5 separate regions of the Homo sapiens genome follow, and all the other regions are linked to region 5. Evidence: fine-mapped QTL for protein levels in blood plasma. A gene starts in region 5. Each other region holds a variant in brackets. All regions are shown on one strand. Distances are between the middles of the regions. Region 1 overlaps ZNF382 (zinc finger protein 382). Region 2 overlaps NPHS1 (NPHS1 adhesion molecule, nephrin). Region 3 overlaps NFKBID (NFKB inhibitor delta). Region 4 has its middle 17 kb from the start of SDHAF1. Region 5 holds the start of KIRREL2 (kirre like nephrin family adhesion molecule 2).

Evidence for each region. PIP is the posterior inclusion probability: the model's chance that the variant is causal. Protein levels are from antibody-based Olink assays in UK Biobank. Linkage for the fine-mapping came from a reference panel and not from the study's own genotypes, which makes the PIPs less certain.
Region 1: its variant is fine-mapped to the plasma level of the KIRREL2 protein (UK Biobank, PIP above 0.99).
Region 2: its variant is fine-mapped to the plasma level of the KIRREL2 protein (UK Biobank, PIP above 0.99).
Region 3: its variant is fine-mapped to the plasma level of the KIRREL2 protein (UK Biobank, PIP above 0.99).
Region 4: its variant is fine-mapped to the plasma level of the KIRREL2 protein (UK Biobank, PIP above 0.99).

What each region holds. Positions count from the first base shown.
Region 1 is chr19:36,631,989-36,637,159 of GRCh38, forward strand. It overlaps ZNF382 (zinc finger protein 382), which reads left to right. Exons shown (of 5, transcript NM_032825.5): 5 at 1-2,126. It overlaps ZNF461 (zinc finger protein 461), which reads right to left. Exons shown (of 6, transcript NM_153257.5): 6 at 4,630-5,171. Among named protein-coding and RNA genes, the nearest start is that of ZNF382, 29 kb to the left of the region's middle. The variant T/C (reference allele first, on the strand shown) is at 3,060.
Region 2 is chr19:35,834,028-35,839,027 of GRCh38, forward strand. NPHS1 (NPHS1 adhesion molecule, nephrin) reads right to left here. Exons shown (of 29, transcript NM_004646.4): 23 at 1,678-1,734. Among named protein-coding and RNA genes, the nearest start is that of NPHS1, 16 kb to the right of the region's middle. The variant A/G (reference allele first, on the strand shown) is at 3,978.
Region 3 is chr19:35,884,288-35,889,458 of GRCh38, forward strand. NFKBID (NFKB inhibitor delta) reads right to left here. Exons shown (of 12, transcript NM_139239.5): 12 at 3,665-4,325. The coding sequence ends at 4,272. Among named protein-coding and RNA genes, the nearest start is that of NFKBID, 14 kb to the right of the region's middle. The variant T/C (reference allele first, on the strand shown) is at 2,786.
Region 4 is chr19:35,975,907-35,981,077 of GRCh38, forward strand. No RefSeq gene overlaps it. Among named protein-coding and RNA genes, the nearest start is that of SDHAF1, 17 kb to the right of the region's middle. RefSeq lists a silencer at 1-48. The variant C/T (reference allele first, on the strand shown) is at 2,689.
Region 5 is chr19:35,854,500-35,859,499 of GRCh38, forward strand. It overlaps KIRREL2 (kirre like nephrin family adhesion molecule 2), which reads left to right and starts at 2,412. Exons shown (of 15, transcript NM_199180.4): 1 at 2,412-2,681; 2 at 2,846-2,995; 3 at 3,909-4,058; 4 at 4,205-4,365; 5 at 4,982-5,000. The coding sequence starts at 2,621.

The sequences.
Region 1 (5,171 bases), 780 kb after region 5:
TACTTAGAAGCAAAGGATGTGGCTCAGCAAAAGAAAGGGAAGGTAAGCATTAGGGCTCAGAATCATCTAGCTGCACATTCCTCAGTGGTTTTATTCACACACAGACCGCACACTGTCTCTGAACTGAAGCACTAAGACCTGTATCAAACTTGATTTGGGGAGAGCTGACAGCAGAACTTCTCTACATGGGTTTTTTTGTTGTCATTGTTTTGTTTTTTGAGACAGAGTCTTGCTCTGTCACCCAGGCTGGAGTGCAATGGTGCAATCTCAGCCCACTGCAACCTCCGCCTCCCAGGTTCAAGCAAGTCTCCTGCCACAGCCTCCCTAAGTATCTGGGATTACAGGCATGTGCCACCACAACCAGCTAGTTTTTGTGTTTTTAGTAGAGACAGGGTTTCTCCATGTTGGCCAGGCTGGTCTCGAAGTCCTGACCTCAGGCAATCCTCCGCCCACCTCGGTTTCCCAAAGTGCTGGGATTATAGGCATGAGCCACCGTGCCCAGCCACTGCATGGGTATTTATGCTTCTCTGTTCACTGGTTACATAGTCAAGCCAGGCTATCTAACTGGTTATGTAAGTTTAAAAAAGTTAAAAAGCCATCATAAACAAATTGGCTCTGGGAGTCTCCCAGGGAATATCAGACTTTAACTAGTACCTTGTATAGCTCACTGGCCTTATCCCAACCAAGAGTCAGAGCCAGACATCTGGGCATCGTGGAGATAATTTTAGAGCTTTGCAGTCTGACTGTAAATCAGCTCCATCTTATAAACATGGTTCCTATAACTGCTGTGTATTTCCTGATAATGTATGTGAACAAGCATATCTCCTCACCCTCTGTGTCCCCAGTATCAGATAGTGCACAGTACATCTCAAATGTGATCATTTCTTGTCAGCTAATGCTTGAATTTCTCCACTCAGTTTCTGGTCTAGCAATAGAGCCAGGCTTGCCATGTCCTGCTTCACAAGTAATGTGCAACAGCAAAAGCACAGGCTCCAACACTAGTCTACAACATGCACCTGGGATGTTCTAGATATTTATCAGTTTATAATCAGGCTTTTTTTTTTTTTTTGAGACAGTGTCTCGCTCTGTCGCCCAGGCTGGAGGCAGTGGCTCGATCTTGGCTCACTGTAAGCTCCGCCTCCTGGGTTCACACCATTGTCCTGCCTCAGCCTCCTGAGTAGCTGGGACTACAGGCACCTGCCACCATGCCCAGCTAATTTTTTGTATTTTTAGTAGAGACGGGGTTTTACTGTGTTAGCCAGGGTGGTGTCGATCTCCTGACCTCATGATCCGCCCACCTCGACCTCCCAAAGTGCTGGGATTACAGGCGTGAGCCACCGCACCCGGCCTATAATCGGACTTTTCAAAACCCTAGATATGTGACAATACCAAGTGCTGACAAGAATGTGGAACAACTGGAACTCTTTCTTTTTTAACTTTTGTTTTAGATTCAGGAGTACAGGTGTGGATTTGTTACTGGAACTTTCATACATTGCTAATAGGAAAGGCAAAATGGTAAAGCCGGTCTGGAAAACAATATGCCAGTCTCAAAAAGTTACACATCCAATATGACCCAGCAATCCCACTTATAAGTACTTATCCTAGAGAAATGAAAAATTATGTGCACACAGAAACCTGTACATGAGTGTTTGTAAGTATTATTTATAATTAAAAAAAAAACTAGAGACAAGCAAATGTTCTTCAGTGTGTAAATGGATACACTGTGGTACATTCCCAAGATGGAATTCTACTCAACGATAACAATAATGAGCTACTGAAACATGCAGCTACATAGATGAACCTCAAATGCATTACGCTAAAGGAAAGAACCCAGTCCCAAAAAGTTACATACTGTATGATTCCATTTATATGACATGCTGGAAAAGGTGAAAATATAACAACAGAAAACAGATCAAATGTTGCTGAGTGTCTGGGGTGGGGTGGGGTCTGAATACAGAGGGGTTGCACGAGGCAATTCTTTGAGGTGTTGGAATTGTTTTGTATCCTGCTTGTGGTCATAGATAAAAAATCTATGCATGTGTAAAAAATAGAAGTATACATACAAAAAAGTGAATTGTACTGTCTGTAATTTTTTTAAATAAATAAAAATCCCTAGCTCTGCTTCATCAGCAGCAGTACCTCCTGATTTGTGTCTTCAAAGATATCTTTAGACTGGCTTCTGAATTACATATCCAGTAGTAGTCAGCCTACACACACACAGGCCTTGCCACATGGTCTCATCATTGTTCCGCAGGTCAACTCACAACACAAGTAACACATTACAGTTAGCCCGTATTTGTAAACTCCATCCAGATGATCAGCCCCCCATTGGAGTGGCAGGCTTCATGTCTGGGGGTGGCACACCTATGGAAGATGGAACTCAGTGTGTGTGCTCTGTTGGGCGTCTCCATCACATCTAACAGTGGCTGACAAACCAGCCAATACATAGTCATCAGGGCATATGCAATCATTGGGAATAATACTAAGTGGGGCCAATTCTGCTATCCCTTGGTTCTCAGTGGTATTCTTAATTCCAACACAGTGCCATTTAAAGGTCCCTGATTGTATATGTGCAGTGGCACAATCTCGGCTCACTGCAGCCTCCGCCTCCCAGGTTCAACCAATTCGTCAGCCTCAGCCTCCCAAGTAGCTGGGATTACAGGCATGTACCACCATACCCGGCTAATTTTTGTATTTTTAGTAGAAATGGGGTTTCACCATGTTGGCCAGGCTGGTCTTGAACTCCTGACCTCAAGTGATCCCACGCCTCAGCCTGCCAAAGTGCTGGGATTACAGTGTATGTTTTTATTGCTGCATAATGATTGTACATATTTATGGGATATGTGTGATATTTTGATACATGCATACAATATGTAATAAATCAGGGTAATTAGGATATCCACCTCAAACATTTATCATTTCCTTGTGTTAGAAACATTTCAAATATTCTACCTATTTTGAAATATACAATAAATTATTAACTATAGTCATCCTACTATCCTATCAAACACTAGAACTTATTCCTTCTATCTAACCATATATATATTTTTTTGAGACAG[T/C]CTCGCTCTGTTGTCAGACTGGAGTGCAGTGGTGCGATCTTGGCTCACGGCAACATTTGCTTCCTGGGTTTAAGCAATTCTCCTGCTTCAGCCTCCTGAGTAGCTGGGACTACAGGCGTGAGCCACCACGCCCAGCTTATTTTTGTATTTTTGGTAGAGATGGGATTTCACCATGTTGGCCAGGATGGTCTCGACTCTTGACCTCGTCGTGATCCACCCACCTCGGCCTCCCAAAGTGCTGGGATTACAGGCATAAGCCACCGCACTCGGCCCTATCTAAGCATATTTTTATATCCATTAACCAACCTCTCTTCACCACTAGCCACTCACTTCCGAACCTCTGGTAACCATCATTCTACTCTGACCTCCATGAGATCAACTCTTTTAGCTCCCACTTATGCATGAGAACATGCCAAGTTTGTCTTTCTGTTCCTCGCTTATTTCCCTTAACATAATTAACCTCCACTTCCACCCATGTTGCTGCAAATGGTAGGATTTCATTCTGTTTATGGCTGAATAGTATTCCATTGTGTATAAATCCATTATGCATTGATGGAGACTTAGGTTGATTCCATATTTTGGCTGTTGTTAATAGTGCTGCAGTAAACTTGGGTGTGCAGATACCTCTTAGATATACTGATTTCCTTCCTTTTGGATATGTACCCAGTAGTGAGATTTCTGGATTATTTGGTTGATCTATGTTTAGTTTCTTGAGGAAACTCTATAATTTTTTCTATAGTGGTTATACTAATTTACATTCCCACCAGCAGTGTACTAAAGTGTTCCCCTCTCTCTGCCCTCACCAAGATCTCTTATTGTTTGTCTTTTTGATAGTGGTCATTTTTTTATTTTTATTCATTTTTTTGAGACAAAGTCTCGCTCTGTTGCCCAGGCTGGAGTGCAATGGCGTGATCTCGGCTCACTGCAACCTCTGCCTCCTGGGTTCAAGCGATTCTCCTGCCTCAGCCTCCTGAGTAGCTGGGATTACAGGTGCGTGCCACGACGCCAGGCCAATTTTTGTATTTTTAGTAGAGAGGGGTTTCACTATGTTGGCCAGGCTGGTCTCCAACTCCTGACCTCAGGTGATCCACCTGCCCCGGCCTCCCAAAGTGCTGGGATTACAGGCATGGGCCACCACACCCGGCCTTACTTTTTGAGACAGAGTTTCGCCCTTTCACCCAGGCTGGAGTGAAATGGCGCGATCTCGGCTCACTGCAACCTCCGCCCTCTGGGTTCAAGTGATTTTCCTGCGTCAGCCTCCTGAGTAGCTGGGATTATAGGGGCCTGCCACCACACCTGGATAATTTTTGTATTTTTAGTAGAGACGGAGTTTCACCATGTTGGTGAAATTTGCATGAGATTTAGAAGGTGGAAGTGAAGCACTGCCACTATTCTTGGAAGGTTTTCATGGATGAGCAAATGGCTACATGTGGCATGTCCTTCTCATGGCCAGTGGCAAAAGCCAAGTCATAATATGAAAGCACATGTAAAGTTCTGTTGGGGACCAGCCTCAACACCACCTGTAGGGTACCTGAAGTCCGGTGGCGACAAAGGAATGAGAAGAGACAGGTTAAGAGTTCATAAAGGTGGGAGCCAAGGGGCCAGAGCAAATCAAAAGCTGCAAAGGCGCCAAGCTCTGGTCTCCACACTATTTATTGAGTACAATCACTTAGATCTAAGAAGCAGATGTTCAGGGGTGAAACAGTGAAAGGGGGGCAATGGCAGTTTAGGTACATTTTCTTTGTGCTGAAGCAGCATAAACTTAACTACTGATTTATTCTTTTACTTATCAGAGAGCAGCTGTGGGGAGTGGGCCTAACTAGAAGCCAGCATATCTGGCCACATTCCAATGCTTCAAAGGAGTGTCTTTCTCCTTGAGCACAGTGTTTATAGATAAGAGAGCAGGTCACACTCTGGTCATAGGAACGTGATGGCAATTAGGAGGCTTTCCTCCTCAGAGGCCTCTTGTGGCTTTCCACAACTTATTGTCCCATATTTTTATGGCCAGTTTATGCAGGCACTCCACAAGCCCTTTTCCCAACAGTTCTACCAAAAGTAACTTCCACTCACATTCTATTCGCTAAATCCAATAAATTGCATGTTAGAATGCAT
Region 2 (5,000 bases), 20 kb before region 5:
ACAGCTGCATTTCTGTCACTTGCAACCTTTTTCTCGGGCTCTGAAGGGGATTTTTTTGCCAAATGGTTGCAATCATCTCCCAGTAGTCACATCCTTGAGTGCGGGGCCTTTCCACACTGACTCTGTGTTGAGCCATGTGACTTGCTTTGGCCAATGAGACACAACTATGACGGAATCAGCTAGTAAATTGCTGCTTTTGACCCCCGTGACCACCTCCATGTGAAAAAGTCAAGAAGAGACACGCGCCCAGTTATCTCCATTGTTCCAACCAAGAGCCAGATGACTATCAGAAGTGTGGGAAGGGGGCAACCCTAGACCACCCAGTCCAGTGGAGCTGCCAGCTGACTGCAGAGATGATTTAAGCCAGCCCAGACCAGCACTGTTCCGCCAGACTCAGAATCATGAGGAAGAATGTTGCTATAAGCACCCATGTTTGGGGTGGTTCATTATACAGCAAAAGCTAACTGATGCAGGCTTCTTACAGGACATGGAGTGAGCTAATTCTTACGGAATTAAACTAAATTTGGAAGAGAAGAAAATTTATCACTCCAGGCAAGAGGAAGATCTAAGAAAAAAAAAATTGGCCAGATGCAGTGGCTCACGCCTGTAATCCCAGCACTTTGGGAGGCTGAGGTGGGTGAATCATGAGGTCAGGAGTTAAAGACCATCCTGGCTAACGCGGTGAAACCTCATCTCTACTAAAAATACAAAAAATTAGCTGGGCGTGTTGGCACGTGCCTGTAGTCCCAGCTACTCGGGAGGCTGAGGCAGGAGAGGAAGCCGGGAGGTGGAGATAGCAGTCAGCCGAGATCGCACCACTGCACTCCAGCCTGGGCAACAAACAGAGCAAGAATCCATCTCAAAAAATAAAAAAATAAAAAAAAAAAATGCCGAGTGCCGTAGCTCATGCCTGTTATCCCAGCACTTTGGGAAGCTGAGGCAGGCAGATCACTTGAGGTCGGGAGTTCGAGACCAGCCTGGCCAACATGGTGAAACCCCGTCCCTACTAAAAAAGTACAACAATTAGCCAGGTGTGGTGGCAGGTGCCTGTAATCCCAGCAACTCGGGAGGCTAAGGCAAAAGAATCGCTTGAACCTGGGAGGTGGAGGTTGCAGTGAGCCAAGATTTTGCCACTTCACTCCAGCCTGGGCAACAGAATGAGACTCTGTCTCAAAAAAAAAAAAAAAAAAAAGAAAGAAAGAAAGAAAAAAGAGGAAGCTCTAAGGAGTCTGCAAGTCTGCAATTCTGCAGGGACAGAACTAAGTCTTTTTTTTTTTTTTTTTTTTTTTTGAGATAGGGTCTCCCTCTGTTGCCAAGGCTGGAGTGCAGTGGCTCAGTCATAGCTCACTGCATCCTCCAACTCCTGGGCTTATGCAATCCTCCCACCTCAGCCTTCTGAGTAGTTGGGACTACAGGCACATGCCACTACACCCAGCTATTTTTTATTTTTGCAAAGATGGAGTCTTGCTATGTTGCCCAAGCTGGTCTCAAACTCCTGGGCTCAAGTGATCACATGCCTTGGCCTCCCAAAGTGTTGGGATTACAGGCGTGAGCGACTGAGCTTGGCCAGAACTAAGTCGTTAAGCAGCTGTGACTACAAGCAGAGGAGGTAGGGTCAGAGACCAGGAGGTTCCATTCTCAGGGGAGCCGGGAGGGATCAGGGGACTGAGGACTTGCCTGAAGGTGGCTCTGTGGGCAGCTGGTCTTCAGGTTCTCCAGAAGGCTGGTGGAGACCTGGGGGGTGGATATACAGATTGTGACTTAACACTAAGAATCTGAGATAAGCTTTAAATATTTCTCAGCCTCTTCTTAAGCCTATTAGATTCATGGGAACTGGTATATGACTGCTTAAGAATATTTCAAAGAGAGCTAGAAATTGCTGATAATAATGACAATACTATTAATAGCAATTCTAATGGTAACGCTAATGCTAAGAATAATTTGTTTTTTGAGACTGAACCTCTCTCTATTGCCCAGGCTGGAGTGCAGTGGCGCAATCTCAGCTCACTGAAACCTCTGCCTCCCGGGTTCAAGCAATTCTCCTGCCTCAGCCTCCCAAGTAGCTGGGACTACAGGCACCTGCCACTATGCCTGGCTAATTTTTTGTATTTTTAGTAGAGATGGGGTTTCACCATGTTGGCCAGGCTAGTCTCGAACTCCTGACCTCGTGATTCGCCCACCTCGGCCTTCCAGAGTGCTGGGATTACAGGCGTGAGCCACTGCGCCTGGCCATTTTTTTTTTTTTAAAGAGACAGGGTCTCACTCTGTCGCTCAGGCTGGAGTGCAGTGGTATGATCATAGCTCACTGCAGCCTCGACCTCCTGGGTTCAAGCTATCCTCCCGCCTCAGACTCCTGATTAGCTGGGACTACAGGCATGCATCACCATGCCTGGCCCAAAAATTAACTGTTGATGAGCACTTTCGGTGTGCAAGGTCCTTTTCACCCGAATTATCAATTTGTTGAGTTAACCAAAAAAGACTTTGGGCTCTCGATCCCTTAATAAAGGTACAAGTTCTAAAGCAAAGGAGGCAAGTGTCATACTTTATGTTTTAGTGTTCAAAGGGAAGACTGGAGTGGGGTGGGGGGAAGAGCAGAGAAGATTGTAGGGGTGAAAAAGTGTCCTTACTTCCATTGAGAAAAAGCCTGCTCTGTCAGGAAGAGGAAAACAGAAAGGAGAAGCTTGCGGCCAGGAGTGGTGGCACACGTCTGTAATCCCAGCACTTTGAGAGACTGAGGCAGGTGGATCACCTGAGGTTAGGACTTTGAGACCAGCCTGGCCAACATGGTGAAACCCTGTCTCTACTAAAAAATACAAAAATTAGCCAGGCGTGGTGGTATGCACCTGTAATCCCAGCTACTTGGAAGGCTAAGGCAGGAGAATTGCTTGAACCTGGGAGGCAGAGGTTGCAGTGAGCCGAGATCATGCCACTGTACTCCAGCCTGAGTGACAGAGCAAGATTCCATTGCAAAAAAAAAAAAAAAGAAAGAAAAGAAAAGAAAAGAAAGAAAGAAAGAAAGAAAGAAAGAAAGAAAGAAAGAAAGAAAAATAAACTGAGCCACAAAGATCTGTGCTATATATTTTTAGAAACTGAGACACTTGCCTATGGTCACACAACTAAGAGGTAGCAGAGAGGGGATTTGAACCCAAGCTTCTCTGGACCAGGCTCTGAAGGATTTACCACTACAATACTGTGCCTATCAGAATTGTAACATATTCATCATATTCAAGGAATTTGTCCTTCTCATCCAACTTGCTGAATTTATTGGAATAAAGTTATCCATAATATTCCCTAATTATCCTCTTAATGTCTGTGGAGTCTGTGGTAACATCCCTTCTTCCATTCCTGTTATTGGTAACTTGTATTTTCTCCCTTTTATTTGTCTTAATCAGATTTATAAATGTTATTGATTTTTTTCAAATAACCAGCTTCTGGTTTCATTGATTTTCTCAATTGTTTTTCTGTTTTCTAATTCATTCATTTCTGCTCTTACCATTATTATTTTCTTCTTTCTGTTTACTTTGGGTTTAATTTGTTCGTCTTTTATTAGCTTCTTTCTTTCTCTCTCTCTCTCTCTCTCTCTTTCTTTCTTTAGATGGAGTTTTGCTCTTGTTGCCCAGGCTGGAGTACAATGGCACCATCTCTGCTCACTGCAACCTCTGCCTCCCAGGTTCAAGTGATTCTCTTGCCTCAGCCTCCCAAGTAACTGGGATTACAGGCATGTGCCACCACACCCGGCTAATTTTGTATTTTCAGTAGAGACAGGGTTTTTCCATGTTGGTCAGGCTGGTCTCAAACTCCCGACCTCAAGTAATACACCCGCCTTGGCCTCTCAAAGTGCTGGGATTACAGGCATGAGCCACAGTTTCTTAAGATGAAAACTTAGAATATGCATTTGAGGTTATTCTCTTAAAAAAAAAAAAAAAAAAAAAACGAAAACTAGTCCAGTCGTGGTGGCTCACACCTGTAATCCCAAC[A/G]CTTTGGGAGACCGAAGCTGGTGGATCACCTGAGGTCAGGAGTTCGAGATCAGCCTGGACAACATGGTGAAACCCTGTCTCTACTAAAAAATACAAAAAATTACAGGTGCATGCCTGTAATCCCAGCTACTTGGGAGGCTGAGGCAGGAAAATTGCTCAAACCCAGGAGGCGGGGGTTGCAGTGAGCCGAGACGGCACCATTGCACTCCACCCTGGGCAACAAGAACAAAACTGCGTCTCAGAACAAAAACAAACAAACAAAAAGTGGCCAAGCGTGGTGGCTCACACCTGTAATCTCAGCATTTTGGGAGGCCAAGGCAGGTGGATCACCTGAGGTCAGGAGTTCAAGACCAGCCTGGCCAACATGGCGAAACCCCGTCTCTACTAAAAATACTAAAATTAGCTGGGCATGGTGGCACTTGCCTGTAATCCCAGCTACTTAGGAGGCTGAGGCAGGAGAATCGCTTGAACCCGGGAGGCGGAGGTTGTAGTGAGCCAAGATCATGCCACTGCACTCCAGCCTGGGTGGCAGAGTGAGACTCCATCTCAAAAATAAAAAATAAGGCCGCGCATGGTGGCTCAGGCCTATGATTCTAGCACTTTGGGAGGCCAAGGTGAGTGGATCACAAGGTCAGGTGTTCGAGACCAGCCTGACCAACATGGTGAAACCCCGTCTCTATTAAGAATACAAAATTAGCTGGGGGTGGTGGCACATGCCTGTAATCCCAGTTACTCAGAAGACTGAGTCAAGAGAATTGCTTGAACCCAGGAGATGAAGGTTGCAGTGAGCCAAGATCACACCATTGCACTCCAGCCTGGGCAACAAGAGTGAAACTCCATCTCAAAAAAATAAAAAAAAATTAAATAATTAAATAAAATAAAAAACTAAAATAAGCACTTAATGCTATAAATTTCCCTCTAAGTACTGCTTTAACTGCAACCTCAAATTTTTATATGTTTTCATTTTCATTTAATTCAAACTATTTTCTAATTTCCCTTGGTCATTAATCACATTCAGATAGT
Region 3 (5,171 bases), 30 kb after region 5:
AAATGCTGGGATTACAGGTGTGAGCCAGTGTGCCCTGCCCAAGATGGCCATCCTCTTACTGCATCTTCATATGGCAGAGAGTAGAGAGCAGAGAAGCAAGCTCTCTCCTGTCTCCTTCTTTTTTTTTTTTTTTTGAGATGGAGTTTCACTCTTGTTGCCCAGGATGGAGTGCAATGGCATGATCTCGGGTCACCGCAATCTCCACCTCCCAGGTTCAAGTGATTCTCCTGCCTCAGCCTCCTGAGTAGCTGGGATTACAGGCATGCACCACCATGCCTGGCTAATATGTATTTTTTAGTAGAGACGGGGTTTCTCCATGTTGGTCAGGCTGGTCTCGAACTCCAGACCTCAGATGATCCACCCGCCTCGGCCTCCCAAAGTGCTGGGATTACAGGCATGAGCCACCACGCCCGGACTCTCCCATCTCTTCTAACAAGGACATTAGTCCCATTCATGAGGGCTCCACCCTCATGACCTAACTACCTCCCAAAGGCCCATCTTCAAATACTACCCCACTGGGGCTTATGGTTTCAACAAATGAATTTTAGAGGGACACAAACATGCACTCCATAACAATACAAATTGAGATATACATCTTATATGTCAACAAAACCTCAGATGCCATCAGTGATAAAAAATAGCATTATTTTAGGTACCACAAAAGGAAAAAAAAGGCAAAATATAAACTATGTCACACAATTGACTATAAGATGATCCCAATTAAGTTCTTCTGTATTTTTTATTTTATTATTATTATTTATTTACTTACTTTAGAGACAGTGTCTTGCTGCCTCCCACGCTGGAGTGCAGTGCTGCAATCATGGTTCACTGCGGCATCAAACTCCTGGCCTCAAGTGATCCTCCTGCCTCAGCCTCCAAAGTAGCTGGGACTACAGGCACCCGCCACCATGCCCAGCTAATTTTTGTATTTTTAGTAGAGACAGGGTTTCACCATGTTGACCAGGCTGGTCTCCAACTCCTGACCTCAAGTAATCCGCCCTCCTTGGCCTCCCAAATTGCTGGGATTACAGGAGTGAGGCACCTCGCCCAGTCCCCAGATAACTCTGTCTCCCAATATTGAGACCCTTGTGTAATGCCTCCCACACTGATCTGGGATCAATGACATGTCAACAAGTATGATACAAGCAGGGACTTGTCTCCTTGGATCTCTCTTTCTTGGAACCACTGAGCCACCACCTGAAGTTAAGAGATCCACCTGCCCTCCTGGACTGCATGGAAAGACTCTTGGGCCACTCCTGGAAGCTCCATTATCTCAGCTGAGCTATCAGGCATGTGAGTGAAGGTGTTGTGGATTTCCAGGCCAGTTGGGCCTCAGGTTGATTGCAGCCACATGAGGAACCAAAGGGAGACAGCAGAACAGCCAGCTGAACCCGGCGTAGATTTCAGTCAGAAACAATTAAGAGGGGCTGGGCGCGGTAGCTCACACCTGTAATCCCAGCACTTTGGTAGGCCGAGGTGGGTGGATCACTTGAGGTCAGGAGTTCGAGACAAGCCTGGCCAACATGCTGGAACCCCAATCTCTACTAAACAAATACAAAAATTAGCTAGACGTGGTGGTGGGTGCCTGTAATCCCAGCTACTTGGGAGGCAGAGGCAGGAGAGTCGCTTGAACCTGGAAGGCGGAGGTTGCAGTGAGCAGAGATCGCGCCACTGCACTCCAATCTGGTGAGACTGAGACTCCTTCTCAAAAAAGAAAAAAGAAAAGAAATAATTAAAAGGGTGTTGGTTTAAGCCTTAAGTTTTGGGGTGGAGACATTGGCTGGAGCCCCGGAATGTGCTAACATGTACATTCGGTCTGTGGTCCATGAAAGGTTCCTAGCTATGGGGGCTGTGATGGGTCCAAGGGCTTTCTGGGATGGGGGCTCTTTGTGTGATTATATTGCAGAGGCCAGAGCAGAGGCTGTGGAGCGGGTATGAGAATGGGGTTTGGGTTTTTTTTTTTTTTTGAGACGGAATTTTGTTTTGTTGCCCAGGGTGGAGAAAAGTGGTGGGATTTTAGGTTAATGGAAGTTCCGCCTCCTGGATTTAAGGAATTTTCCTGCTTTAGCCTCCCAAGTAGGTGGGAAAACAGGTGCCCGCCACCATGCCTAGCTAATTTTTTTTTTTTTTGGTTTGTATTTTTAGTAGAGATAGGGTTTCACCGTGTTAGCCAGGATGGTCTCAATCTCCTGACCGCATGATCCGCCCGCCTCGGCCTCCCAAAATGCTGGGATTACAGGTGTGAGTCACTGCGCCTGGCCAATTTTTTTGTATTTTTAGTAGAGACAAGGTTTCATCATGTTGGCCAGGCTGGTCTCAAACTCCCGACCTCAGGTAGTCCACCCGCCTCCGCCTCCCAAAGTGCAGGGATTATAGGCATAAGCCACTGCGCCCAGCCTTGGGGGTTTTTTTGTATCTTTTTTTGAGACAGAGTCTTGCTCTGTCGCCCAGGTTGGAGTGCAGTGGCGCAATCTCAGCTCACTGCAACCTCTGCCTCCCAGGTTCAAGCGAGTCTCATGCTTCAGCCTTCTGAGTAGCTGGGATTACAGGCGCACGCCACCACGCCTGGCTAATTTTTGTATTTTTAGTAGAGATGGGTTTTTGCCATGTTGGCCAGGCTGGTCTCAAACTCCTGACCTCAGGTGATCTGCTCGCCTCGGCCTCACAAAGTGCTGCAATTTTAAGTGTGAGTCACTGCGCCTGGCTGAGAATGGGGTTTTGTGGAATTCTTAGTTTGGGTTTCTCCAAAAGCAGCTATGGAGGGAAGGATTGGAGGGAAAGTTCA[T/C]TTGGAAGGGATGGAGAACATTGGTAGGGGAGACAGGAAGAGACACAGAGAAGAAAGAGCAGCCAATAAAGGGTATTTTATCAAGCCCAGACCACTGTGGGGAACTGGGGATTCATCTGCTGGGGAACTCTGGAGCCCGCATAGGCCATGCACTTCCAAGTTAGCCCAACAGACAGGTGGGGGACTATCTCCTATCAGTAACTGGCTGAGGGCTGCTGGAGTGGGAAGTGGACACGAACCCCCTGGCTTTCAACACTTGCCATGCTCATACCTGGGGCAGAGCCGCACCAGTGGTTTGAGATTGCCCAAAGGCAAATATTCTGGGGCTGACACCCAGGCTGGTCTCAAACTCCTGGCCTCAAGTGATCCTCACACCTTGGCCTCCTAAAGGCCAGTCCCTCTTGTGTCGCCAGGGTGAGGGTGACAGGATATGGACTTGGCACCCATGGTGGCTGCTACATCCTCCCCCCTCAGGCACATTCATCCCAATATGACCCCTCAGCGGGCATCACAGCCACTCCCCTGCACCAGTGCCCCCAGAGATCAGACAACAGTGGTTCTAGTCCAAATTGAGTTTAAATTTTTTTTTTTTTTTTTTTTTGAGACAGAGTCTCTCTTTGTCACCTAGGCTGGAGTGCAGTGGCACAATCTCGGCTCACTGCAACCTCCGCCTCCTGGGTTCAATCAATTCTTCTGCCTCAGCCTCCCAAGTAGCTGGGACTACAGGCGCATGCCACCATGTCCAGCCAATTGTTTTTGTATTTTTAGTGGAGACAGGGTTTCACCATGTTGGCCAGGCTGGTCTCAAACTCCTCACCTCAAGTGATCCGCCCGCCTCGGCCTCCCAGAGTGTTAGGATTACAGGCATGAGCCACCAAATCTGGCCCAAATTGAGTTTAATAAAGAGCTTGAGTGATGCTCAGATTAGGGAGGGAGTGACCGGGAATGCTGGGGTCTGGAACTGGGGGCCCAGCTGAGCTCTGAATCAGAGAGCAGTGAGACCTAAGGGTCCCTGATCTCAGAGGGTCCCTCCTGTCTCAGGGTGAGGACCTGAAGGGTGTGGGTCCCGGGGAGGGTGAGGAGGCCATTGTAGGAGATTTACTGAGATGGTATCGGGATGCCCCAAGCACCACGTAGGGGGATTACATCTGGGTTTCTGGGAACGAAGAGCTGAGTTAGGGGAGAGAACCCGAAAGATCTCAGTGGGGAAAGGACTAGGGGTGCAGGGTGTTTCACAGAAACAATCAAGGGGCCTCGATTTCACAGAAATCATCAAGAGGGCTCCTTGTGGGTAGAAGAGGGGTATCACAGCACCCCAAATATTGGGGCCTGTTCACCCCTCTGCAGCCATTCTGGGGTTTTAATGTAAAACCCCAATGGCAGGATATTCCACATACATTATCATGGGTTTGCAACATTAGCATACGCTGGCTGTCCCGCAGGACGGTGGGGACTGGAAAATCAGTCCAGGGTCTGGGTTTGAGTCCTAAGAGGACAGGCCTGGCGGCGCCACACGGCTCCTCTTCAACAGCTGCCGGAGCTGTAGACAAGGCAAAGGAGGGAGAGAAGTCTGTCAGGTTGGAAGGAGAGGTGGGGAAGGCACGCCATGCAGAGGGAGGGGCTAGAGAAGAGAGGTTGAGTGGGTCCCTTTGGATTTGAAGATCAGAGGTCCAGAGTCAAGATTTTGGAAGAGCCAGGTGCAGTGGCTCACGCCTGTAATCCCAGCACTTTGTGGGGCTAAGGTGGGCAAATCACCTGAGGTCAGGAGTTCAAGACCAGCCCAGCCAACATGGCGAAACCCCGCCTCTACCAGAGATACAAAAATTAGCCGGGCATGGTGGCACGTGTGCCTTTAGTCCCAGCTTGGGAGGCTGAGGTGGGAGAATCACTTGAACCTGGGAGGTGGAGCTTGCGGTGAGCTAAAATTGCACCACTGCACTCCAGCCTGGGTGACAAAGCAAGACTCCGCCTCCAAAAAAAAAAAAAAGATTTGGGAAGGAGGCCGGGAGTGATGGTTCCTGTGATCCCAACACTTTGGGAGGCCAAGGCGGGAGGATCAATTGAGGCCAGGAGTTTGAGATCAACCTGGACAACATAGTGTGACCCCATCTCTTAAAAAAAAAAAAAAACAAAATTAGCTGGGTGTGGTGGTGACTGCCTGTAGTACCAGCTACTGGAGAGGCTGAGGTGGGAGGATCCCTTGAGCCCAGGAGCTCGAGGCTGCAGTGAGCTATGATCATGCCACTGCACTCCAGCCTAGGCAACAGAGCAAGACGCTGCCTCAAAATAAATAAATAAACAAACAAACAAATAAAAATAAAGATGTGGGAAGAAGGTCAAGGCCTGGGTTCGTACACTGAGAAAGGGTCAGGAAGCAGAACTTCAG
Region 4 (5,171 bases), 120 kb after region 5:
CTTAGAAAGTCCAGCATCCTTGGAATGCTTATAGACCAGCATCACCTATGAACCTCATTCATTTATTCATTCATGCATTAGTTCGACAAATATTTATTGAGCACCAACTATGAGCTGAGAACTGTTCTATTTTATACACGTGTGTGTGTGTGTGTGTGTGTGTATGTGTGTGTGTGTGTGTGTATGTATGTATTTGAGACAGTCTCACTCTTGCCCAGGCTAGAATGCAGTGGTGGGACCGCGGCTCACTGTAGCCTCAACCACTTGGACTTAAGCAATCCTCTCACCTCTTGCCCCTGTAGCCTCTCTAGTAGCTGGGACTACAGGTGCAAGTCAATATGTATGTTCATTTTTTGGAAAGACAGGGTCTTACTGTGTTGTCCAGGCTGGCCTCGAACTCCAGGATTCAAGCAATTGGCCCGCCTTGGCCTCCCAAGTTGCTGAGATTAAAGCATCACCTACTGCACCCAGCCTATTCTGCACATAAACTATATCAATTCTAATTGAGGAAAACTATAGTCCCAACCTCCAGAATCCATAATTCTTACCTCTCAAGATTTGTTGAAAAGGGTGGTCAGGATCATGAACAGCAGTCCAAGCATTTCTAGGTTTGTGGACAGACCCCCAGCCCCTCAACTGGCCCCCCAGAACCCCTGCTAAAAGCAGGGGTCCAGGCATCCTTGGTACTGACACTGGGCCCCCAAGCTCTAGCTTGACCTGCCCTCTCCCCGCAGGTGAATGGTGACTGCAAGAATCTGCACTTACAGGCTCCAGGCAACAGTGCACTCATCTTCTGCCAGGGCTGGGACACCATGGCCAGCTGCCCCTTTGGCCTGTGTGGGACCTACACCCCGGGATCCATGCAACACTGATGCTACCAGCAGCAATAGGGGCGGGGTTAGGTGCTGACTACACTGGGGGGTACCTGGATGCCCAGAGTTGAGGCAAGCACCAAGCTGCCTGAGGACATATTGGCTTGGGCCTGTGGCTGCTTGGTGGGCTGTCTGGGTGTCCAAATGCCTCTGGCAAGATGCCATCATGACCACCATCCTGTGCCACCCTGCCAACCACTAGCACCCTGGCCCACTTTGTTCACATCTATGGCATCCTCCTGGATGCCCTGGGGCCCCTCCAGCTGTGTCATGAGTTGCTGGCACCAGGTCCCTATTTCCAACACTGAGTGGTGGAGATGTGTCTGGGTGCTGGACCCTGCCGCATGCTCATCCGGGTTTGTTCATCTGGGGAGCCTGGCTCCACTCCCGACTGGAGTTCAGCTCCTCAGCTGTTGCCTATCCCAGGATGGCAGACCCTCACTGCCCCATTTAATCCCTGAGACCTTGTACTTCCCGTGATGCCGGCCTCACCCCCTCCCCACTCATTGTCCAGACTTGACCTCAACCATTGCCCATCCTAAAGTGTCAGCCCTACTCTGATTAAAGCCAGCCCCCACCTCATATGCTTCCCCAATCTCAGCCCTGATTATGGCCCAGCACTTCAGCCCTTATCTCTTCAGGGACTCAGAACCTGATCACGGCCCAGCCCCGAAGCCGTCACCCATCCCAGAGACCCATCACTGCCTGTGAACCACAGTTAGCCACCTGGGCTTTACTGATCTGAGGTTCCAGCTTCAGTTCTGTCTAAGCTGAGCTCTCCAGCCCCACCCCTGCAGGGCACCAGATGACAGATCCTAGCGCCCCCTGCATGGAGGGTGGGCCCACGGCAGCCACTTGCCCGCCATCTGGTGCTGCTGCCTGCCAAGGTTGGTGGCTTGCAAACCCTGCCACATCCCCTAGGAGGCCCCAGGCCTCTGCACAGCCTCAGGCAACTCCATGACCGCCCCTTTGGGAGCACCACATTTGGGCTCCTGGGTGTCTGCACGGTTTTGGGCTGCCTGTGGGGTGTGCAGCCCTTCGAGGTGGTGCTGGAGAGAGACCTGGGACTGTCCGGCCTCTGCCATGTGCTGCTGCTATGTGTGCATGGCCACTACTTTGGTGTGGACCTCGGTAACCAGGGACAGTCAAGAGAACCCTTGTCCTGTCATTTACCTCATTTTAGCAACTTTGCATCTCTGTTCCGGTGGACAGGATCTCTGTGTATGGCTCTCTGATGCCTTCCTTCCCTTCCCCTTGCCAACACCCTAATTTCCACTCTTCTCCTCCCTTCTCCCATCTGCACTTCTGTATCGCTCTCCTTCCCTTTCCCTTTCCTTATTTCTTTCTTTCTTTCTTTTTTTCTTGATGGAGTGTTACTCTGTTGCCCAGACCGGAGTGCAATGGCACTGCAACCTCCGCCTACTGGGATCAAGCAATTCTCCTGCTTCAGCCTCCTGAGTAGCTGGGATTACAGGTGTGCACCACGACACCCAGCTAAGTTTTATATTTTTAGTAGAGATGGGGTTTCACCACATTGGCCAGGTTGGTCTCAAACTCCTGGCCACAGCTCATCCACTGGCCTCCCAAAGTGCTGGGATTACAGGCATGAGCTGCCGTGCCTGGCCCTCATGGTCCACATTGGACCTTAACCCATCCTAAAGTGCCAGCCCTGCTCTGATTAAAGCCAGTCCCCTGCTGGCCGCACCTCCTGCTCCATGCAGCCCAGTCTCACTGTGTCTCCCCCACTCCCCTCCTCCCTCACTTCACCACGCCAGCACGCCCCACCACTCTCTCCTGCCCCAAGTCTTCATCTCCC[C/T]GTTCTTTCTCCTCCTCTTAGATCTGGAAGTGACCCCTCTCCCCAACAGCTGCCATTGGCTCCTCCCCAAACCCCTTCCCTGCCTGCCCCTCCCTCACCACCAACCCTTCCTCTCAGAATAGCCCCTCGTCCTCTTAGTCTCTCCAGACTCCTCCCTGGCTCTAGATCCCTCCCTTGTCCCTAATGCTAATCCCTGTTTCTCCCCACACCGCCCTGCCCACCCTACTACTCTCTCTCCTCCTCCCTTGGTCTCCACGCCCCTCCCCTGACTTCCTGCCGTGGTGCTGGTCGTACTCCACAATGCCCATCCTGAGTGTTGCCTACAACCCCCTCGCCTCGGCTCTCCCCTCCCCCACAGTCCCGTGTTTCTTCATACCTCACCCCCATGTTCCTTCTCACATGCATCTGATCCCCCTCCACTCTTCCCGCACCAGTCCTGGCACACCGCCTCCGACCTCTGATTCCCCGTGGCCTCCATGGCAACTGCAAAGGTAAGACAGCAGGTGGATGACTTGGCAGCTGCCGAGGCCCGAGCCCTGCGCCCCGCCGCATACTTGCCCAAGGTCAGTCTGTCCGGCAGCCACCGAGGACCCTGGCACAGACACGATGTGGTCCAGTGCCTGTAGCCTCTTGCCTAGCCAGGGACCCACTGGCACCCTGTCACACACACCTGTCACCAGACAGTCCTTCTTCCAGGCCTGCGTGGCCGAAGTGGACCACATCCCTGGAACCACAAAGTGCCCCATGCCTGCCTGTGAGCTGATGGCTGGTACCAGTGTGCTGTCCTGGAGGGCCTGGGCCTCTGCTGTGAGTCTCCACCCAAGAGCGGACAGAGCCAGCATGAGGCAGGGCCTGCAAGAGACCTGGGTCTGGTCTGTAGTGACTCCACAGGTACGGATTGAGGACCTACTAAGTGCTGGGCATAGGCTGGAGATAGAGCACCAACAGGATAGAGTCCTGCACATACCTTTTTTTTTTTTTTTTTTTTTGAGACATTCTTGCTCTGTCACCCAGGCTGGAGTGCAGTGACGCAATCTCGGCTCGCTGCAACCTCCACCTCCTGGGTTCAAGCGATTCTCCAGCCTCAGCCTCCCGAGTAGCTGGGACTACAGGCACTCACCACCACGTCCGGTTAATTTTTGTATTTTTAGTAGAGATGGGGTTTCACCATGGTGGCCAGGCTGGTCTCAAACTCCTGACCTCAGGTGATCTGCCTGCCTCAGCTTCCCAAAGTGCTGGGATTACAGGCGTGAGCCACCGCGCTCAGCTGAGTACTGCACATATTCTTGTGGGGAAGACAGATTTGATTTTCTTTCTTAGCTAACACTTACAGGGCACACAACCTACATCAGGGGCTACCTGAAGACAGCAGTTCTTAAAGCCCCCCAGCAGCATTAGCAACACCCAGAGCTTATTGAAAATGCAAAATCTGGCCAGGTGCAGTGGCTCACACCTGTAATCCCAACACTTTGGGAATTGCTTGAACCCAGGAGTTCAAGACCAGCCTGGGCAACATGGCAAGACCCTGTCTCTGCAAAAAAAGTTAAACAATTAGCCAGGTGTGGTGGCATGTGCCTGTGGTCCCAACCACAGCTCTGGAGGCTGAGTAGGGAGGATCACTGGAGCCCAGGATTTGGAGGCTGCAGTGAGTTATTATGGCAGTACTGCACTCCAGCCTGGGTGACAAAGTGAGACCCTGTCTCAAAAAAAAAAAGGGCCAGGCACAGTGGCTCACACTGTGATCCCAGCACTTTGGGAGGCAAAGGCGGGTGGATCACAGGGGGCCAGGAGTTTGAGACCAGCCTGGACAAAACCCCGTCCCTACTAGACGGGGCAAAAACCCGTCCCTACTAGAAAGACAAAAATTAGCCGGAGGCCGGGCATGGTGGCTCACACTTGTAATCCCAGCACTTTGGGAGGCAGAGGCGGGTGGATCATGAGGTCAGGAGATCGAGACCACGGTGAAACCCCGTCTCTACTAAAAATACAAAAAATTAGCCGGGAGTGGTGGCGGGTGCCTGTAGTTCCAGCTACTTGGGAGGCTGAGGCAGAAGAATGGCATGAACCCAGAGGCGGAGCTTGCAGTGAGCTGAGATTGCACCACTGCACTCCAGTCTGGGTGACAGAGCGAGACTCCATCTCAAAAAAAAAAAAAAAAAAAAAAAAAAAGAACGGCTGACCTTTACTGAGTACTCTCTCAGTTCTAAGCCCTGTTCTCCCTCAATCAATCCTCCCATTTACATTTTATGGATGAAGGAAACCAAGGCATGGATGGTTAAGGAATGTGCCCGATGTCACATGCCTAAAACATGGCATAGCTGGCATCTGAATATTTGTTCGTGGATTTAACAGATTCTCCCCAACTTGGAGTCTCTATATCCACGTCTCCTCCATGTGCCTCAAGGATTCCTGGCCCCACCCTGACTTACCCTTTTTGGGTCACCATCCTCCACTCCCCCCATCTCTTTTTGCCTCTAGGTTGA
Region 5 (5,000 bases):
TTTAGTAAAGACGGGGTTTCTCCATGTTGATCAGGCTGGTCTCGAACTCCTGACCTCAGGTGATCAGCCTGACTCGGCCTCCCAAAGTGCTGGGATTGCAGGCGTGAGTCATTGTGCCCAGCTGATTTATCTTTCTATCTTTCTCCATCTGTTTGAGACTCTCTCGCTCTCTATATTAAGTTGTTAAATCTCAGTCAATCTTTATTTCACTGTGTCTCTCCATCTCTATATGTCTCTGTTATTCTGTTTCTCTGTCTCTGTTCTCACCTCTGTCGCTCCCCTCACCCCACAGTCTGTCTCACACACACCAGGAGCTCCATAAATATTTGTTCTCAGCCACACTCTGACCACGCCTCTTTCTCTTATGTGTCTCTCCATCTCCGAGTGGCTCTGCTCATCACATCCCTGGATTTTATAACCATATGCTGGTGGGCCTGCCCTCCCCGCGTGCACATACACTTGCCTGGGATAAGCTTCTTCTGCCTGCTTATCTCCTGCGGGAATTGGAAATGCTAGTTTTCTCCCTACCTCCCCAAGACCCCCGCCAATATCGTTCCCAGGAACAAGATGAGGCATCTGGCCTCAGCCCCCAGCTTCATCCTCGATGCTGGACTTCCATCTTCCCTCACATGCTTGACTCCTTGCCCTCCTCCCACCTCCCCTCTCCCAACTGCTCTCTACACCCCCTGGGAAATGGGCTGGATGCCGAGCTGGGGGAGTGGCTCTGTCCTGGGGGCCCTCGCCAGATGGTGTCCCTAGGTGCCAGAGCGTGGAGCTGTCCCTTGCTGGGGCCTTTAATAAGCACAAACCTTCCACCCTCCACCTTGGCTGTTTTCCTTCTCTGCATGCTCCTGGGACCTTGGGCTCTCCATCTTTCCATGTCCGTAGCCCCAGAGAGCCAGGAAGGGGAAGCGGCGTCAAGTGCCTGGAAAAACAGCCCCATGACTTGAGTTCCTCCCTAAGACTCAGGAGTTCCAGCCCCATGTCCATCCTATTTCAAAATCCAGGCACTAGATAAGCCACACAGAAGCCGGGAGTGTAGGCCCCCAGATCCCTCCCCTCTCAGACCCTGGGGTCTCAGTCCCTTCTCTCCAAGGACTCGGGAATTTGGGCCTCTGATCCTCCTGGCCACACTACCCACCCCCGCACCTCCCCATACACACACACACACACACACACACACACACACACACACACACACACACACATACACACAGGACTTAGGACAGATGTTCACGGTCTGATTTCCAAATCCTCCTGGGCCTGTGTGGGGGTGGGGAGAGATTGGCAGATAGATCCACCGACTCTTAAGACTTAAGACCAGATATTCTGACCCCTGTCACCCTCTTCCAAGTGCACCATGCACTTGAGTGCACCTTGAGTCTCCAGCCTCTCAAGGAACCGGGAGATCAGGCCATCAGCGTCTCAGCCAGCAAAGGCCTGAACCACCAGTCCCTTATAACCCTGTAAGTCCAACCCCCACTCCCAACCCCACTCCCCCATTTAGGGACACGGAGTCTGAGCCTAAGAACAGTGGAGAATCTGAATGTGGACCCTCCAGTTCTTACAGGTCCAGGAATGTCAGATCAGGGTCCCAGCCCCCCAGCCCTCCTTCAGGCTGCTCGGGGTCCCTCCCACCTGCTCGGCCAGCTGCGCAGCGTGGGAACGCCCCAGCTGGGCTGCATGGAGCCGTCAGGACAAGCTGCGCGGTTCCCAGCCTCCCTGCCTGCCCCGGCCCGGCACCGCCGCCTCCCAGCCGTCGCCGGGCAACCAGGCCGAGGGGCCCGGCCGGCCGAGTGGGGAGAGGGGTTGGGCTGGGACTGCGGGGTCCTGGGAAAGGAGGGGCCGAGGGCCTGGATTCCTGGGTCTTAGGACGTGCTGTAGTTTGCAGCAATAACAAGGGAACAGAGGGATATTTTGAGGAGGGGTTTTGAGGCTGGGGGAGTCGAGGTAGGGGTCCCAACTGTCCCCCAGGTATCGGTGTGCCCTCTTCCCGACACGCAGGCCCGGGGGAGCCCCGGACCCCGCATCCCCCAGGGCGCGGAAACTGGCGAGGCCCCAGGAGCTCCCATTTATAGCTCAGTTTCCACTGAGCGCAGTCCCTCTAGGACCTGGGCTGAGCAAGTTTCTTCCACTCTCTCCCTTCCCTCCTCCTCACCCCTTGCCTGCCCCTCAACCCCGGCAGGGCGCAGGTGTCCAACCCAGCCGGGACCCCCTCCCTCCTCGAACCCAGGTGTTCCGGCTCCCAGACCCCAATTGAGCTGGGGGCGCCCACCCGCCGGGGGATCCCGCCCTGCGTCCCCCATTCATCCGCGTCTCAGCCGCGGGAGTTTCTCAACGGGAAGAGGGCGGAGCTCCCGGGGGGCGGACCCGGGCGGGGCGAGCGGGATCGGGCCCTCTTGGGGTCTCCCAGAGACCCAGGCCGCGGAACTGGCAGGCGTTTCAGAGCGTCAGAGGCTGCGGATGAGCAGACTTGGAGGACTCCAGGCCAGAGACTAGGCTGGGCGAAGAGTCGAGCGTGAAGGGGGCTCCGGGCCAGGGTGACAGGAGGCGTGCTTGAGAGGAAGAAGTTGACGGGAAGGCCAGTGCGACGGCAAATCTCGTGAACCTTGGGGGACGAATGCTCAGGATGCGGGTCCCCGCCCTCCTCGTCCTCCTCTTCTGCTTCAGAGGGAGAGCAGGTACCGCACGAGGGGAGCGGAGGAATATGGGGTGGGGGTGGGGAGTTGCTTGCGGGCTGCCTCTTCACTAGCGAGAAGGGAGCTGGGGGCTGGGACTCCTGGGTCCTGAATGAGGAGGCCCCTGAAGGTGCTAAGCTCAGCCCTGCTGCCCCGAACTCTCCTAGGCCCGTCGCCCCATTTCCTGCAACAGCCAGAGGACCTGGTGGTGCTGCTGGGGGAGGAAGCCCGGCTGCCGTGTGCTCTGGGCGCCTACTGGGGGCTAGTTCAGTGGACTAAGAGTGGGCTGGCCCTAGGGGGCCAAAGGGACCTACCAGGTAAGAGTGTTCTCTCCACGCTGGGACGGGCTGGCTAGGGGGAGAGTTGCTGGGCTCGGCTGTACCTGCAGTTTCTATTTTGACATTTTCAAGTTTGGGAAATTGATGGGCTCGGGTAAACATTTAGGAGTCCTGATTTTTGAGCTGCTTCTTTGGGGGTGACCCACGGAGTTTGGGAATTATTATGTTATTGCAAAATAGTACATAGGCCAGGTGCAGTGGCTCACGCCTGTAATCCCAACGCTTTGGGAGGTTGAGGCCAGAGGATCGCTTGAAACCAGGAGTTTGAGACCAGCCTGGGCAACATAACAAGACCTTATCTCTACACAAATGTATATATATATTTTAAACAAATTAGCCGGGTATGGTGGTGTGCATCTATAGTCCCAGTTACTCAGGAGGCTTAGGTGGTAGGATTGCTTGAGCCTAGGAGTTCAAGGCTGCAGTGAGCCATGATCAAGCCACTGCACTTCAGGCAATGGTGAGACCCTGTCTCAAAAAAAAAAAAAAAAGAGAACATAAATGCAAAAAAGTACAGTAAATATAAATGGAAGATTTACCAAATAAAATAGACACACACAGCCAATACCCAAGTCCATTGCTAGCTCCCCAGAAGACCCCGTGTTCCTTTCCCCTATCATAGCCCCCTCCCCCTCACTCCAGAAGTAGTATCTAACCTAATTTTTATGGCAATCATTTTCTTGCTTTCCTTCCTGACTTTATTACCCCTAAGTTTGCAGTGACTCTGGGTTGGGAGGGAGTTAGAGTCTCTCTGGGCCCAGTACACACTTTTTAATAGTGTCTTACCACCAAATGTGTGGGCCAGTTTTCTGGTGGAGGATGTCTGGGGATGGAGGCCTGAGGCCAGGATTTCAGAACCATGGTGTGCTGACTGCCTTCTCCCTGACTCCAGGGTGGTCCCGGTACTGGATATCAGGGAATGCAGCCAATGGCCAGCATGACCTCCACATTAGGCCCGTGGAGCTAGAGGATGAAGCATCATATGAATGTCAGGCTACACAAGCAGGCCTCCGCTCCAGACCAGCCCAACTGCACGTGCTGGGTAAGGACCTCGCCCACTTGTCCCCTGGGAGCCCAAGAGGGCAGCCCGTACTAGCTGTGAGTAGCAGAGCCCAGGGAGCCCAGGGGCATGGTCAATTGGAGCTGAGAAGATCAGGATCCATCTCTGACCCCAAATCCACCTTGCAGTCCCCCCAGAAGCCCCCCAGGTGCTGGGCGGCCCCTCTGTGTCTCTGGTTGCTGGAGTTCCTGCGAACCTGACATGTCGGAGCCGTGGGGATGCCCGCCCTACCCCTGAATTGCTGTGGTTCCGAGATGGGGTCCTGTTGGATGGAGCCACCTTCCATCAGGTCAGGTCCAAATTCCTGTGCTAGCCTTTGCCCATTGAGGGAAACTTGGGTTACACTCTGACCACAGGCTCATCCAGAAGAGAAGAAGACATGGGAGGGCAGAGGTTCATGGGTTTGGACTCTTGAAATATGATGCAGGGTAAAGATTCTAGGGCCAGACTACCTGGGTTCAAATTATGTCTCAGCCACTTGCTAGTTGATTGATCTTGAGTAAGTTAGTTAACCTCTCTGTGCCTCAGTTGCCTTATCTATACAATCAGGATAATAGTAGCATGCATGTCATAGGGTATTGTGAGAATTAAATAAATAAATACCTATAAATGCCCAGAAGAGTGACCAATACATAGTGAGCACTATATAAGTAAGGCAAGCTTGTCCAACCTGCGGCCCATGGGCTGCATGCAGCCCAGGATGGCTTTGAATGTGGCCCACCACAAATTCATAAACTTTCTTAAAACATTATGAGACTTTTTTGTAATTTTTTAGCTCATCAGCTATCATTAGTGTTAGTATGTGTGGCCTAAGACAATTCTTCTTCCAATGTGGCCCAGGAAAGCCAAAAGATTGGACACCCCTGATGGGTAGATGGCATTATTATTCTTATCCTTCCCTCCAGACCCTGCTGAAGGAAGGGA